Linked DNA regions of Homo sapiens: region 1 is linked to region 2. Evidence: fine-mapped expression QTL. A gene starts in region 2. The other region holds a variant in brackets. All regions are shown on one strand. Distances are from middle to middle.

Region 1 (5,373 bases), 100 kb before region 2:
TTGTGGCTATACTAAAGAAAACTCTTTTTTAAGCAATTTGATTTGTTCACATACAAAAAGGTAAAGCCAGACTCCAGCAGTTCACAAGCCATAATAAAGCTAATCGTGTGGGAAGTTCAATTTACAGCCTGTGAAATATAAAGGCATTTATTCCTCAAGATTCACCCAAAACAACCCGTACGCTACATACATAGAGAGCAGAGATTGGTAGGCGAGGCGAGACCAGACCGCATTTCTAGACCATGAACACAGCGAATACTAGCAAGAAAAAAAGCTTCTCCCCGCCAAGGGGAGGCTTCCAACCACGAGACAAACGCGTACAGCTTTTCTCCCTTGTACAGAAAGAGACTGACTCCTGTTGCGCCATGGGGGAGGCGGAGGGACACAACGTAAAAGTGGGGGTTCCAAAAGGAGTCAAAAGGAGAGTATGGGGTTACCGTCACGCCACACCGAGAGAAGCGGAGACGACACTTTCACCCGGTGGGGGCGGGGGCGAGGCTCCCCCAGCGCGGACTCGGGTTCGGGGAGTGCAGGGCGCACTCTCTTTGTGGGTCTCCAAGCGAAGGCACAGTTCGGGGGCCGGGGTGGAGGGCGCGCTCTAGCAGGCCGGGCGCACGGGCACCTGCAGGAGGATCACCTGTCTGTTTTCGGATGGGTGGCACTTGTTGATGTGCCGCGTAAGGCCGGGCGAGCTGTAGAAGGTGGCCGGGCAGTACTTGCAGGGGAACACCTGGGCGGCGTGCAGCAGGCGCAGGTGGCGCTCCTGAGCGCCCTTGCTGGCGAACGACTCTCCGCACACTGGGCACAGGTGGCACTCGGCGGACGCACTCAGGCCCAGCACGCCGGCCCCCTCGCCGTCGCCGGCCGCCTCCTGGGGCGCCTTCTCGTCGGGCCCGGGGTACAAGGCCAGTAGGTCCTCGGCCGGGGGCGCTAGCGGCGCGCCCTTGGCCTGCAGCGCCTGGTGGTGCGCCAGCAGGTGCTTGCGTAGGTAGGCCTGGCGGCGGAACTTCTTGGCGCAGTGATGGCACTCGTAGAGCCCGTCCTCGGAGCCCGACTCGGACACGCCGCCGGGGCTCGGCGTGTCCCGGTCGCTGCCGCCGCCGGGTGCCTCCCGCGCCTCAGCCCTGGCTGCTGCTTCTGGCTCCGGCGCGCGGGCGGCGGCGGGCGCGGGCCGCGGTTTGTGCCAGCGGCGGTGCGAGGCCAGGTTGGCCGGGCAGCTGAAGACCTTGGCGCACTCGGGACAGCGGTACTCCACACGCACGATGCGCGAGCATTTGTGCTGCGCCAGCGCGAACGGGTCGGCGTACTCCTCCTTGCACAGCTGGCAGATGAACTCGCCCAGCGGCCGCGCCGCGCCCCCCGCGCGGCCCCGCGGCGCCTCCACCGGGCCCTCCTTGATCTTGAGCCCCAGCACGGGCGACGTGGTCACCTCGTCCTCGAAGTGCAGCTTGCGGATGGCCTTGGGCTTCTTGGCGCCCGGGGCCTTGACTGCCTTGGCGGGCGGCTCCGCGGCGGTAGGGGGCGGGGGCCGCTTTCCCGGGGGCCGCAGGGCGGCGGCAGGGGGCAGTGGGGGGCCGGGGCCCGGGCCGCGGGCCGCCTCGGCGCCAGCCGAGAACGCCGTGCCCATCTTGAGCTCGGCGGGCGCGAAGAGCAGCGGGTCGCCGCCGCAGGTGCCGCCTCCGCCAGCTCCGCTCGCGCCGCCGCCGCCGCCCCCTCCGAGCAGCGCGGCGGGCGTGGGGAAGGACTCGGCCGAGACCGGCGAGCCCAGGTTGAAGCTGCGTTCGAAGTACTTGTGCTTCTCGTGCTCGCGGCTCACGGGCCGCGTGGGACTGTAGAGCGGCGCGGGGTGCGCAGCCTCGGGGTTGCCGAAGTGCGCGGCCCGCGGGCCCTGCGGGGGTGGCTGCGGCCCAGGCGCGCAGGCAAGCGCGGCGGCGAGCGCTGCATGGGCGCGCTCCGCGGGCGGCGGCGGCGGCAGCGGCCCGGGGACCGGGCTCGGCGCCGGGGGCTCGGCGCGGGCGCCCCCGCAGCTGGGCGAGAGCAGCAGTGCGCGGTCGCCGTCCTCGCCGCCGCGGACCCGGTA[G/A]GAAACGGGCGTGGACTTCTTGCTGCGCTTCACCAGGAAGCCGCGGGGCATGTTGGCGCGGCCCGAGGGCACGGCACTGGCTCGGTCCCCCCTCCGCGCTCGGCCCCGGCGGCCCTCAGTGCCCCCGGCCCATTGCCCGGGCGCGGCGGCTGCGGGACTCGCGTGGCGCCGGCGACGGCTCGGCCCAGCTCTGCGCCCTGCACGCGCGTCCCTGTCCCCGGGCCCGGCAGCCGCTCCCTTTTAACGGGGGGAGGGGGCCATTGTTCTCGCCTCCCGCTTCCCCTGGAGCCAATCAGCGCGTCCGCAGCTCCTCAGCCTGGCAGGGTGGGAGGGCGATGGGGCGGCCAAAAGGGGGCCGGGACTCGGGGGTCGCCCGGTAGGTGCGGCAGATGTACCTGAGGGCGCGGGGCCCCCGCGCGCGCCCCTGGTCGCCCCGCCCGGCGCCGCCGCCCCGCCCGGTCCAGGCACACGCCCGGCCCCGCCTCCCTTCACGGTCTGCTGCTTCTCTATGGGGAGGCGCACGTGCCTGGGCTTTGTGTCTCTCCTCCGGGGGGCGCGGAGCCGCCAAATGGGCCCGTCCATCAGCGCGACAATGCACGCCCCCCTCCCGCGCGGGGATTACCCGCGGGTCGCTAGCAAAATAGCAACAAAGGAGAAGAATGGCCCCAAATATGTCAGGAGGGTTCAATCCGCGAGCCGGAGCCGAGGGGGAAGTTGTGCGCGCTGATTGGGTGGGGGCGGGGGCGCGCCGGGGCGGTGCGGGGGAGATCGTTGCGGAGGCGCAGTGGCTCCGCGTGGTGTTTGGGAAATAAACAAGAATCCGAGAGAGCAGCAGGGTCCGGACGGCCTCCGCCCGGACCTTGGACGGATGGGCCGCTGGACCCAAGAGGCCAAGCAAAAGGGTTCCCCGGGGTTCCAAGTGTGGACAGGGGGCCCGGCCTTCTGGCAGTGGCCGAGGGCGATGTTTGTGCTCGCAGCCTCCGCGCGCCCACGGGGCTAGAGAAGGTTTCTTTCGAGTTTGAGAAGGAATTGGCACGGCCTTCTCAGTCTCCCGAAAGCGCGGGATTGGAGCGCGGGCGGGCTGGGCTGGGTTCCCAGAGGAACGTGAATTTCTGAACTTTTGGGTTCTTGGAGGCTTGGGAATGGCATCTTTGGCGGGGCCCGACCCAGGCCGCCCGGAGCTTCCGCGTGGTCCAAGGCTCGGTTAATCCGGGTCGAGTTGGCCGAAGCCCGAAACGCGCGGTCGGCCTCGTGCGCCCCAGTGAAGTTGGCTTTCTCCTCCCCGCGCGGCCTCATGCATTTTCATTCCGAGCGGGCATTTTGTTTGCCGGTTGACATCAGATGCTAAATCAAGGGCTCCAATCAAGGCGCTGCGAAATAAAGGGGCTGCCTGTCTGGGCGCAGCCCCCACGGAGCCGTGCCCCCTTCACCTTTGTGAAGGAAATTAACCTCCTGCTATTGAGCTCCGGTCGCGGCCAATCTGGACGCAAAAGAGACGCGTGCTGGACGGGGGGAGGGGGGGCAATCTGTACTCTGAGGCAGGCTGAGGCCTCCGAGAGGACAAGCCGCCTCCCCTGTGCCACCAGGAAGAGACAACAGCGAAGATTCCCCCCGCCCCCACCCCCACCCCCACCTCCGCTGCCGTTCCGTTTGGACCCAGACTGGGCCGCCTGCCTCCATCCTCTGTCCAGCCCAGCCCCGAGGAAACACAAAAGGCAGAATCTTCGGGGGACAGGGCAGAGAACCCCACGAGTGCGTAGTGGCCCTGATCGTCCAACACTGGGGAACAAATAGCCAAGCCACATAAAATGTCATATGCTGTGAGGAAAATGTCACTTTATTGAAAGAGAAGGAAACATTTTTCTGCAAAGCTTTGTATACCAGACAGATTTTGCTGAGTTTTACTTACGCTTAATTCCACTGAAGGTATTTAATTGTTTTGGATTTTCCCTCTGAAAATACCCTGGCGTAGAAATTAAACATGTAAAAATAGAGTCCACATGAGTCATAAGTTGTGATGGGGACAGTTGTTAGGCTTAATTAATTAAGGGGTTAATCAGGTTGGTTAATCAAGGGAAAGATATTTGATAATTTTATGTTTGTAATATTTTAACTCACACACTGAAAAGGGAAGAATGCATATAGTGAAATATATTTTGAAAAGTCTCACCCTAGTTTTAAAAATGCTGTGGTGAGTGCTAGTCTCCCCAAAAGTTAGAAATCTTAAAATGAGTTTATCTAAAATTTATAAACATATTTCTATCTAAAAGTAACTGATGTTATTTCCTTGCTCTTTTGAGCTCTGATTAATAGTGCTGATGAAATTAGAAGTGGGAAAAGGATTCCGAGACAGCTTTGGCCAATTTTATTTTCTAATCACGAATCCCATCTGGATTGTAGAATAGCATAGGGCGGGGGCTCGGCCTGCCCCATTCGGTCTTGCATATGTAACACTCCTTCCATTCAACAGATAACAGAGAGTTAGTCACCTTGTGAATCCTTTAAAAATAACAACACCCATAATTGTAAATAAGCCGTGGGGATGGGAAACCGGCACCTCTACCAACAAAAAAAACAAAACAACTCCTGCGTGAGTGAATTCAAACAGGGCTCTGAATTTAGCCAAGGGAATCTATTAAACGCTACTGAGATACTGAGATTCAATGAATCCGTTTCTTTTTCTTTATTTGTGGCTTCCAGTCTTGCTAGCGTAAATGAAATCTGCTTTCAGACGGGTACAGTCAAAATAAATGGAAACTTGAAAGGTACTAGTATTGGAAACTAATTTCACCACCCGGGGCTGGAAGGAGTTAGGCTGCGCACGCGCGCACGCACACACCAGCGACCTCCAAGCAGGTGTAGCCCAGCCCGGGCCGTGGATCGCAGCCGCCTTCTGCGTGATTTTCTCAGAACCTGTGCACCCGCATGCATGGGGACATCGGGTCGAGATATTTGTCTTCGCCTGGGAAGAGCAAAGCGCCATCACAGTGCGCCCCCGACGCCGGCCTTGGCGCACGCGATTCGGAGAATGGGCCGCGTGAAGTTAAGTTGGGGGAAACAGCGCGGATTTGCCCCCCTCCAGGGGGGCTTCGCGAAAGTCAGTGAACATAAGGATCCAAGGCAGAGCACCCAAGGGGCCTTCCCCGGCTTCAGGTGACTCCTCCCCTTCCTTCGGGGTCCTGGCCAGCGCTTTGGAAAAATCCCGGGCCTCTTCACTTTCCCTTGCGGACCCCGCGGTGGGTTCTTCCTCCGACGACTGCGGAGCCCGAGGCCCCAGGCCCTCCAATTTCTCC
Region 2 (5,373 bases):
CACAACAGGCCTGTGAGACAGGGTTTATCATTTTATCCAGAAAATAAGGTACAGAGAGGTTAAATCTTGAGCTCAAGGTCAGGTCACATGGCAAGCAGGTGGGTCACCAGGACTCAAACCCTGTGAGTCTATTTCAAAATCAGGTCTCATAGCACTGCAGTACACTTGCAGATGGATATGTAACACGTTACTAAAATATACTCCAACTGGCATTTTATATGGGTAAATATCTTCAGCAAATAACTAGATAATGAAATATTTTTAAGTAGCAATCACAGATTATTAATAAATTGTGAAATAAACACTCATTAAAAAACAGGCCAGGAGTGGTGGCTCATGCCTGTAATCCCAGCACTTCGGGAGGCGAAGGCGGGAGGATCACTTGAGGTTAGGAGTTTGAGTCCAGCCTGGCCAACATGGTGAAACCCCATCTCTACTAAAAATACAAAAATTAGCCGGGTATGGTGGTGCATGCCTGTAATCTGAGCTTCTCAGGAGGCTGAGGCAGGAGAATCACTTGAGCCTGAGAGGCAGAGGTTGCAGTGAGCCTAGATTGCACCACTGCACTCCAGCCTGGATGGCAGAGCAAGATTCTGTCTATATATGTGTGTGTATATATATATATGTACACATATACATATATGTGTATGTTACATTTTATAGTTTATATATTTTAAATTATGTCTATGCATATTTACCTATTCTTTTGTATTTTAATGAAATATATATGTATATATGCACATATACGTGTATATATATACATATATGTATATATGTGTATATATACATATATGTATATATGTGTGTGTATATACATATATGTATGTGTGTGTGTGTGTGTGTATATATATATATATATATATATATATATAGCCCACGAATAGAACCAGACAATGCGCTTTTTACTTTTTAGAAGCCAAAGCATAAGATTTCTATGCCCAAAACGTGACCTGTCCCGTTCTGCTCTGCTGAATAAAAAGGGAAGAATATATTAGATATAACATAACAAAGCCTCTGTTCGATGATGCATGCAGTGGAATTTTAATGTTATACTTTTCCTACAAACATGCTTTTAATAAGGCAGTAAACTGTATTTAGCTAAAGATGAAAATAATTGATCCATTTTGAGCCATTAAGGTAGTTTATTTTTTTTACTTTACTTTCATCCTACTTTTCATTTTCATGGAAAGTACAGAGGTAATAGCAGATGAATTTCAATTAGTTTCAATTAGTGCCATAAATTGTTATAATGTATCGGGTTGCTGGGTTCTATCAGAAACCCCCCAGCAGAACACTCCAGGTTTTGTTTGCAGTTGAAAGCAGCATTTGAGCCTGTGATGTCAGCTCTTCTCCATGGCACTAGAGCAGTTCTAATAGTTTAGGGTAATTTACTTCTATAAATCCATCCAACTCTAGAGCCCGGAAAACCATGTCCTCTGGATGGACTAATTCCATCACAGAACCACTGTGTTCTCCTTTGGAAGCAGAAGATGTGAAATACAACAGTGACTGTGGGAAGGAGCTACTCTCTGGGGTGGTATCTGTGTGCGTCTGCAATGGGTAGAAGTTCAAAGGAGAGCCGACTTCCTCCTGGGAGTATCTCTTGTTCTTGATGCCCAATATCCACTGTTCTAGAACAATCCATCCACCATTCTCCCCTCACATCCCTGGGCTTCAGTAACATCAGCACTGGTGTTTGTTAGGATTCAGGGTGTGGTTCCCGGAGGGACATGTCACCCAACCACAGCCAGTGGGACACGATGAAACTATTTTTCACTGTCCTTGGCTCCCTTGCCCCAACTCACATGCTAAAGTATTTAAAAAAGGGGAAATTAGCACTGAGGGAGTAAAAATAAACTATGATGAAAACTGTCCACATTCCTCCTGGTGTTATTAGGGTGACATGAAGAAAAAGCAAGGACTGAAATGTCCAGGACGGTCACGGATGGCTCCATGCGACTTTTCAAACGTGCATAAGCACAGCCCTGCTCCTTGCTTTCCATCATGTGCCAGACTTCTAGCTTCTGGCTTCAAATGCCAATGAGACAGGCAGGTGGGAGGGAGTCCCTAGAAAAACTCCAACCAGCCTGCACATTGGGGTGGAGCCTCCGGAAATGCATGCCATCTGCAGTGGGGAGGAGCCTGGCCCCTCCTCTTCCTGTGTGGAACCTGGGAATCAAGTAGCCGGCTTGCCTTGCGGAGGATCCTGCTTCCCCCTCCTCCACCCCATTTTTTTCCTTTCACCCAGTAAAACCCTGTTTAACTCACCCTTCAAACCGTCTGCGAGGCTACGTTTTCGTGGCCACGGGACGGACAAGGACCCCATCTTTAGCTGAACTACGGAAAAGCCCTGCAACACCACCATCTCATCGCTGACTTGGAAATAAGCTAGCAGTGGCTGTGTCAGCAAGACCACCACATGCAGCAAGGGTGGCCACTTCCAGCTAGCTCCTGCATCCACAGCTGCCTCGCCCCTATTGGCTACTGCCATCCATGGTAAGCCATTCTCCCGTGGTCACCTTCTCTCTGCTGGCATGGGTACTACAGATGGAAAGGCCATTTTCCCAAAGTGCTATGTGTGTACAGCGGCACCCGCCTGGTCAGCTCCCATCCCTAAAAGGTAACCAGTTAAACTTGGACGTGGCTGGGTGCTTGCGGCCCGCCAGTGTCTGTCCCTGCCCATGCCTCTGGCTTCATCTCCTGCTGCTGCCCTTCACAGACTCTGCCCAGCCCACGTTGTTGGCCCAGTGTCTTTTGGACACAATCCAAACTCCCCCAGCCTCTCTCTCTTCTTATCCTGTCCCTCTTCAAGACTGAGCTCAAATCCTCCTTTCTCGGGGAGGCCTTCTCCAAACTTCACAGCCTCCAGGGCTCTCCTGAAGGCCACAGTGCCTCTATAGCTGACTGGCACCTGGTGTACACGGATCCCTGTCTTTAAATAGAGACTGATATCCTCAACTTCATCAGGGCCCTGGTGGCAAGGGCTGAGACTTCTACTCTAGGGTACCTTTAATTCCATCACACATAGAAGTAAGAGCAATGCTAATGGCAGCCTCTATGAAACTCTTTCTATGTATGAGAGACTGTCCTGAGTATGGCATGTAATCTCATTTATCTCTTTTCACCCTCTCAGCAACCCATGTGAGGTAGATATTATCTAGAATCTGAGACACAAAGCAGTTAAGTAACTTGCCCAGGGAAACGGCAGACCCAAGATTTGAACCCAAGTCACGTGACTCCAGAACCTGAGCTAGACTGACTTTATAAATGTCTGTTATTCGTGAGGAGGAGCTTAACTCATCCTGTGTAGCCAGCATGTTATTACTCTCATTACTAAGGATGAATTTTTAAAGAATAGCTTCAATTTCATTCAAGGGTTCTCTTGTCTTCATCTCAATTGACCATCTATTTCCAGGTAGGCCGAATGCAAAAAGTTTTGATAAAACTCACCATGTGGGAGGTAAGGAAAAGAGTTACATCCTGAACTGTCTTCACTTACATTCAGTAAAACATTTATTTTGCATTTACTATGTGCCAGGCACTATGCTGGATACAAGTGACACTGAGATAGAGTAGAGCTGAAATTATCAAAGAAATGGCTTGGAGCTTCAGCCAAGTATGGTACTGTAGATGTCTCAGAAGCAATGCTGCAACAGCTATATTCTTTTCAAAATGCAGTTCTGGAAAGATCACTAGGCTTTCTGCAGTATGAAAAGGGATTTGAAAGCCCAGCAATGAAACTCAAGTATCATATACCCAAAGTCTCAGTTAAGAAATAGAGGTCACAAGGTGACTGAAGTGATTTGGCATGAATTTGTATTTCTATATGGAATGCCCTCCCAGCTAAATGTATTTCAGCCTGCCAGAGAAGCCAATGGTTTATTTAGGAGGCTCTACCTCGAGGCCTCCTCTCACACTGGATCCTACTCTTTGCTGCATTTCCTGGGAGCCTCTGTGGGTATAATTCTGTCTGTGGTTGTTGGTTCTTGGCTCAGGTGGGGACGGGCTTTCTGTCCTAGGCCTCCTCTGCTCTGAGATTTGGACTGTGATCCAGTGATGCTGCAAGAATAATAATGGCAAGAATAAGGTCTGAATGGGACTAAAGTTATGTCTGAGTATGACCTGGATTACAGAAAAGATACAAAGAGGAGAAAGTTTTTTTAAGGCAAGATGTTAACATTTTTTCTTAACTTTTTTTACTTGAGAATTTACTTGAAAAGGGCCTCTACACAGAGTTAAATGAACTTGGCCAGGTCAGGTTTCCCTGAAGGCTCCCAGAGCTTGGTCCTAGCATTTCAGTGTTAAGAGCACCTACCTGAGAGGTGCCTGGGGGAGTCATTAAGCACCAGACCTGGAGAAAATCACCTACATGTAAGACAGGAAACTAATTTCCACATACTTCTTATCCTGGCTATTTGGTGGACAAAAGCAGGCACTCCAAATGGCTTTATGCACTGGCTGCTGGGAGTCAGTCTTAAATCTTGAAAAAACATTTCCCTTTAAGGGGGCACCACAGCATCACCATCCCTGACAACTGGGCAAGTCAGCAGAATAACACTGATGCTCTTCCTCCATCTGAGAACCAAGAGGACAATACAAAGGCACATGAAAGAGACTACAGCGCTTCTTGCTTTGGGGTTTCTAAATTCTCTGCTATCAATATTCCACCTTAAGACCTTGCAGTGCCACTTTCGAAGGCTCTTTTCTTGGTCAAATGCTCCCTAGCCCAAACAACCAAAACACACAAAGGTTCAAAGTTAAAGCACAGCACTGCAGGCTGACAGGATTGGGTGCAGTCTTAAAGATGAACTGTGCATTTTGTCTTGAACCACTGGCTTTTCTGCTTTTGGGGAACTTATGGTACATTTGGAGGTCTGGACTTCATGAAATGGTAATGATTTGTCAAAAATGTTATGGCTAAAAGCTGGTTACTACAAACTACAGCTCATGTCTGGTTTAATAAATAAATTTTATCAGAACACAAACCTGCCCATTCATTTACATATTGTCTATAGTTGCTTGCTCACTAAATGAGCAGAGTTGAAGAGTTGCAACAGAGACCATATGGCCTGCAAAGTCTAAAAGAAAAAAAATTTTTAAGATAAGGTCTTGCTCTGTCACCCAGGCTGGAGTGCAGTGGCATAATCATGCCTCTCTGCAGCCTTGACCTCCCAAGCTCAATTGATCCTCCCACCTCAGCCTCCCAGGTAGCTGGGACTACAGGTGTACACCACCATGCCCAGCTAATTTTTGTATTTTTTGTAGAGGTGGGGTTTTCCCGTGTTTCCCAGGCTGGTCTCAAACTCCTGGGCTCAAGTGATCCTCTCACCTTGGCCCCCCAGAGTGATATTTACTGGTATTTTACAGTAAAAA

Which allele goes with the higher level. Alleles are on the strand shown, and positions count from the first base shown. SD is a standard deviation of normalised expression in the study named.
For the expression in prefrontal cortex of the gene that starts at base 2,153 in region 2, allele G in region 1 goes with a lower level than allele A (large effect, 0.75 SD a copy in CommonMind).

What was found.
Region 1: its variant is fine-mapped to the expression of CFAP61-AS1 in prefrontal cortex (CommonMind, PIP 0.95).

Annotation. Positions count from the first base shown.
Region 1 is chr20:20,365,026-20,370,398 of GRCh38, reverse strand. It overlaps INSM1 (INSM transcriptional repressor 1), which reads right to left and starts at 2,295. Exons shown (of 1, transcript NM_002196.3): 1 at 1-2,295. The coding sequence starts at 2,131. The coding sequence ends at 599. RefSeq lists an enhancer at 2,432-3,202. The variant G/A (reference allele first, on the strand shown) is at 2,081.
Region 2 is chr20:20,264,617-20,269,989 of GRCh38, reverse strand. It overlaps CFAP61-AS1 (CFAP61 antisense RNA 1), which reads left to right and starts at 2,153. Exons shown (of 4, transcript NR_183979.1): 1 at 2,153-2,496. All of the region lies in intron 21 of CFAP61 (cilia and flagella associated protein 61), which reads right to left. RefSeq lists an enhancer at 2,424-2,924.